Regions from separate parts of the Homo sapiens genome. Here region 2 is linked to region 1. Evidence: fine-mapped expression QTL. A gene starts in region 1. The other region holds a variant in brackets. All regions are shown on one strand. Distances are from middle to middle.

Region 1 (2,923 bases):
TTTAGAGCTGGAAGGTTAAGTGTCCCCCTGGGGCCTCACAGCTAGACACTTGGCACCCCACAATTTCCACTCTACCTCTAAATCAGTTTAATCCACGTTATATGTCAGAGTACAGAAGTTAGGTGATATATTTAAAATTATAGTTTAGCATTTGAAAACTACCAAAAAACTGAATCAGGAAGCTCGAGTCTGATTAAGTGGGATGAAATTGTGATCTGAAATTTAAGCCAGTCTCTCCAAGAGTTGAACCACCTAAGGCGGAGTTCAAACAAAGGCTGAAGCAGGAAGGTTTGCTGGGGGAAATCAGTGGGGTCCCCTGAGCAGCGTGAAGTCATCAGGCCAAGGTAATGCTTCCCAGAGGTGTAACCGCTGTGTGTGTGTGTGGCGTGGCGGGGGGGGGCGGGGGGAAGGGGGCGGAAACGCGCAGTACTTTGCAGGTCAGCCCCTGGGGACTGGGATGGCTGACTACCTGGTATTGCACTAAAATGCTTGACCCCTAATCACATCCCCCAACACTACACCTTGTGCGACGTGATGAAAGCATCATTTCCAGTTTATTCGACTTTTCTGTTTAGACTTATTCATTATAGCCCATATATGTGATAAGGACTAAGAACCCAGTCTTCAAGGTCCTGTCGAGTTCCAAAGAAGTCCACCCCTCAGAAGATCCTTGGAAGGGGAAGAAGGAAAAAAGAAAGAAAGAAAAATCTGTTTTACCCTATAACAATTTCAGCGCAATCTCCCAAGACCAAGTTGGTTAATTTGTAAAGTCACTCTCATTTTTTCCTCAACAGTGCCACCTACTGTCCATTTTCAGTCATCAGCAGGCTTGTTGGCAAGGTCCAAGAGAAAGAAAGGAGGCGGAGTGGTGGGGGGAGGAGTAACCAAAAAACGAACTCTACCCAGCCTTGGGGCATTGTGAAAACGACGAGGAAAGGCCATCTCCAAGCAAGACATATTTGTCCTCGTCAACTTTGCAGAAGGCTTGCAAAAAGCAAAAGCCAGTTAAGCCATTTCCTTCAAGATGGCTAAATATAAGTCCTCCAGAAAACAATTTTTATTATTTTATTTTTAATGCGCGCTGTTTGAGTATGTTTACGTTAGGGGACCAGATTGAGCAAAAATATACATATAATTACTTTTCTATGTTTTCCGCCCACCCACGGCAGAAACCTCTTTATGAGAAAGGCTTTGACACTTGACGTCAGCTCAGAAACTTTTGAGTTGGCGGGAAGAAAGGGTTAACAAGTGGTGGACCAGCGCGATCTTTTTAGAGTCCCAGCCGGCTGTCGAAGGCTCCAGGTACACACACACACGCACACACTTACACACACACACACACACGTGCACACACCCCTCCCAACTGTTCCTCCTTGGGTCGGTTACTTAGCTGAAGGGCACCATTTGGCTTTAAAACAAATTACTTCAGCGCCACAGGGAGTTTATCGCTTGGAGGGAACTTGTAACGCGGGAGTTCAGGGAAATCCAAGAGGCGAGGGCTCCCACCTCCGCCGCCAGAGGAAAGTAAGGAATCAGGTGGTGGCCCCCTATGTGTCTTGCATTTCTCTGCACACGTTAGCAATCAAGTTAATTGAATTCATTGGAGTTTAGAACCGGCCTGTAGCTCAGAGAAGGCTTTGAATGGCCAATTTCTCTCTCTCCCTCTCCCCCTCCCCGCCTCCCGCTCGCCCGCCCGCCCGCGCTCCCAGTTCCCTCCCCTCAGGGTTCCCCAGTCCACACCTCCCTCTCCACTTCCCTCACCCCCCCACTCCCTCCGCCGCCCTATTAAAACACCCACCAGCTCACTTGTTAAGACCCCCTTAAGTTGGAGGAGGCAGAAGGGCAACAACGGCGGGGAAGGAGAAGTCAAGACGTCTGGAAAGAATTACCCAGTCCTGGCTTCGAGCAGCCCATTGAACCAGAGACTTGAAACAGCCCCAGCCAAAGACTTTTCTCCCAATTCTGCGCTTCCTGGGTTCTGCTGAGTCTTCCACAGGCTTTTTTTTTTTTTTTTTTTTTTTTTAAGACGAAAAAGAGATTTTCTGTTATCGGGGGCAGAAAGACTGAAGCCCAAAAAAAAAAAAAAAAAAAAAAGAAAAGAAAAGAAAAAAGAAAAGTTAATTTATTTTTAAAGCATAATTTTTTTAAGAATTAGACTGAAGTGCAACGGAAACATAAAGAGAATATTAGTGAAATTATTTTTTAAAGTGGGGAAGAATCAAACATTTAAGACTCCCCTATCCTTTTTAAATGTTGTTTTTAAATTTCTTATTTTTTTTGGCCGGTCGTCTCAAATTCATCTGATCTCTTATTACCTCAATTTTGGAAACTGCCCGCCACCGACCCTCCGGGACCACACAGACAGGCTGAGGACGACTTTATGACCAAGAGCTGAACAAGGTACGTTACACTGGCGCGTTTTGGTGAAGGATGAAGGTCCTCCAACAGGCCAGGGAGAAGGAAGACATCCTTATAATTGTTTTAAAATTTTTAAGCCAGTTTCGATAGAAAAGTTGGAAGTTTAAAAATTTCCAACAGACTGAAGATCAGGGAATATTTCAGGTCACTGTCAGGCTTAGCAACATAGCCCTCTTTTCCCATTTCTGCGGCTCTCGCCAGAAATCCGCTGCCTTTCTGGGGACACAGGTAGCCTCTCTGCCTGGGAAAGGCTGCACGTCCTCAGATGTACTTTTCCATTTTGCATCTTCCGGAGCAGCAGAGGGGCTCCAGAGTTAGGAAACAAGAATTCCCAATGTAAGGAAAATGCATTCTGCACAGCCGCCCCACCCCTTCCCTTCTTTTTTTCCCACACACACACACACACACACACACTGTGGGGAGAAAAACTGGAATAGCCCAGCGCGTTTTACTTCTAAGTGAAAAAGTCGCTTCTTGCTGGGAATGCAAAGGGTTAAGCAATCTG
Region 2 (2,923 bases), 470 kb before region 1:
ATGACATGTCACTACATACCTACTTGATATCTAAAGTTTGAAAAATATCATTGACAATACCAAGTTTGGTGAATATGTGGTGCAACTACAACACTCATACATTGCTTGTGGTAATGCAAAATGGTACAGGCATTTTGGAAAAATGATTGGCATTTCCATATCCTGTTACACATACACCTACTTTGTAACCCAGCACTCTAATTCAGAATTATTTCCAAAGAAAAATTTCTCCATAAAATGATCTGAATGTAAATACATAAACCTTATTCATAGGAGCCAAAATCTGGAGCAAAGCTGAATAGCCATCGGTTTTGTAAATATATAAACAAATTGTGGCATTTTTGTATAATGAAATGCTACTTAACCATTAAAATAAACTATCAATACATAGAACAATATGGAAACATCCAAAAGGCATAATGCCAGAAGACACATATATTGTACAGTTCCATTTAAATGACATCTGAACAAGGCAAAAACTATGGAGACAGAAAATAGGTTCAAGGTCAGGTGTTGGGGTGGGAGAGTACAGGAGTAACTACAAAGAGTCATAAGGAAACTTTCTTTTGTGGTGAGGGAAATGTTCTATAACTTGATGGTAGTGTTAGTTAAAGGACAGTGTAAATTTGTCAAAGTTCATCAAATGGTACAATCAGAAGTAGAATTTTACTATATATAAATTACTCCCAAACATCTGATTTAAAAAAGAGGATACAATGTATTAGTAAATGCTAAAAGACTTCAGAGAATATAAAGAAATACAGGAAATGAAATAATGCATAGACCCCTTGTGTGCAAAAGGGATAAAAGACATTCAGATGTGGCTCTATAAGAAGGAGGTGACCATTCATTTCCTGGAGTAGACTAGTGTGGACCGTCATACTTCGTGGCTGGAAGGAGAAATTGATGTGGCAAGCATAGGAAAGTGAATAGACCATGGCCACTACAATTGAGGATATGTTAGAAAGTCATTAATTCAAAGTTGGTTAGGAAGTCATAAATTCAAAGTTTGTTAGGGAGAGTAAGGCCAGATTGGTCATGAATATGGTCATTATGTGGCTATGGATGTCTGATCTTACAGAGTGGCCAATTTAAACTAACAATTGACATTCATTGTACAAAGTTGAGGCCATAATGATCATTTTTGTAGTTAATTCATGGCTTATTCATATCAGTCTCCAAGCTGGATTCAGGCATTAAAGCTCACATAGAGGAATTTGCAGTAGGCAACTTGAATTCAACAAGCAGTGACCACATGATAAACATTAAGAAAAGCACTTAGCACATCTTAATTTATTCACACAATCATAACACAAGGTTAATATTATGTGCACTTAGGAAGAAACTGAGGATCATGTAGCTAGTACTGCTGGCTATTTCATGCCTCCTGCTCTTCAGGGCTATTGTATGAATTTTCCTTTTATTAAATTACTTATTCAGGAAACATTTTAAAATTATCAATTATATACTGCATCCAGTTAATAGTACAGGCCCATTTTAAACTCAAATCTTTGACTAAAACCCACAACTTCAAAAATTATCTGTGCTAATAAAGTAGAAAATAAGAGTCAAGAGGTCAAGAAAAAGTCTACATCATTTTGATTTTAATCCTGTATATATTTTATGTCCTTAAAAATATACTTAATGTTAATGCAT[C/T]AATCAAATGAGGACGTGGAATTAAATAATCTCCAAGGTTCTGTCATGCTATGTTGTTCTATGATTTCAACTTTACTCAGAATAGAAAAAAATTGGTGAAAATTATTCTAGATTTAACAGAGATTGGCTGGGTATGCTATATAGATTCTTCCTCTGGACTGTGATCTATTTTTCTCTCTCTGCCAGAAATATAGGCTACTGTTAAGCAAAAGCCGAGTCCCTCCCAGGTATTTAGGTTGGTGCAAAATTAACTGCGTTTTTGCCATTAAAAGTGGCAAAATACCTTTTGCGATTACTTTTGCACCAATCTAATAATACTTTTACCTGAAGGGAGCCCCCTCCCTGGATTGTATATTCCCACCCTCACATCTGTGTTCATTCCTGGACTGTATATTCCCACCCTCACATCTGTGTTCATTCCTGGATTGTATATTCCCACCCTCACATCTGTGTTCATTCCTGGATTGTATATTCCCACCCTCACATCTGTGTTCATTCCTGGATTGTATATTCCCACCCTCACATCTGCGATCATTCCTGGATTGTATATTCCCACCCTCACATCTGTGTTCACAGAGTGGCTGGTTGATGCTGAAATATAAGTGGGCCTTGTACTTCCACTTAAACTATCTCTGAACAGTCACTCCAGTTTCAGAGCTTCCCATGGATTTCTGAGGCTTCCTTTTAACTTGCATTGCAGTTCACCTTCTCTTTCTTCCCAGTCCCACTTCTCTCACATGAATTCAGGTGGAATCCCCTGGTTCATTCCACTCTAAAGTCCTTGCATCCAGATCTCCATCCAAAGTCCATGTTCCAAAAACTTGGGCAAGGATCTACGGCATAGATCAAATAATAATTAATTAATTATACGTAAGCACCATTTAAAACATGGTACAATTTAATCATTATATAGGAAAAGTAGAACTGATCTGAATTTGTCATCTTTTTCCATATATATCTTTATTTAAAACATTACGTAAGATAGTATGTCATATTTTTAAGCTAATATTGAGAACAATTGGTCAAAAATAACTAAACACCAATATCCATTTGTATACTGCTCTATAGTTTACTTATGTGCAAAGCATTTTACAAGTGTAGTAAGAGATATCATGAATTGCATCATATAGCCTCCTGAGAACTCTCAAAAATAAAATAATCAGAGAGGGAGGCAGAGAAAGATGGCCAAATAGAAGCCTCCAATGATTGCCACCCCCACCCCCACAGGAACATCAAATCCAACAACTATCCACACAAAAAAGCATCC

Alleles and levels. Positions count from the first base shown, and alleles are read on the strand shown. Sizes are in standard deviations (SD) of each study's normalised expression.
As copies of C replace T in region 2, the expression in hypothalamus of the gene that starts at base 1,813 in region 1 goes up (large effect, 0.82 SD a copy in GTEx).

The links. PIP is the estimated chance that this variant, and not a neighbour inherited with it, causes the effect. A credible set is the group of variants that fine-mapping cannot tell apart.
Region 2: its variant is the best candidate, but not a certain one, in a credible set for the expression of HAS2 in hypothalamus (GTEx, PIP 0.62).

What each region holds. Positions count from the first base shown.
Region 1 is chr8:121,640,330-121,643,252 of GRCh38, reverse strand. HAS2 (hyaluronan synthase 2) reads left to right here and starts at 1,813. Exons shown (of 4, transcript NM_005328.3): 1 at 1,813-2,400. It also overlaps HAS2-AS1. RefSeq lists an enhancer at 531-1,154.
Region 2 is chr8:122,108,071-122,110,993 of GRCh38, reverse strand. No RefSeq gene overlaps it. Among named protein-coding and RNA genes, the nearest start is that of LINC02855, 410 kb to the right of the region's middle. The variant C/T (reference allele first, on the strand shown) is at 1,657.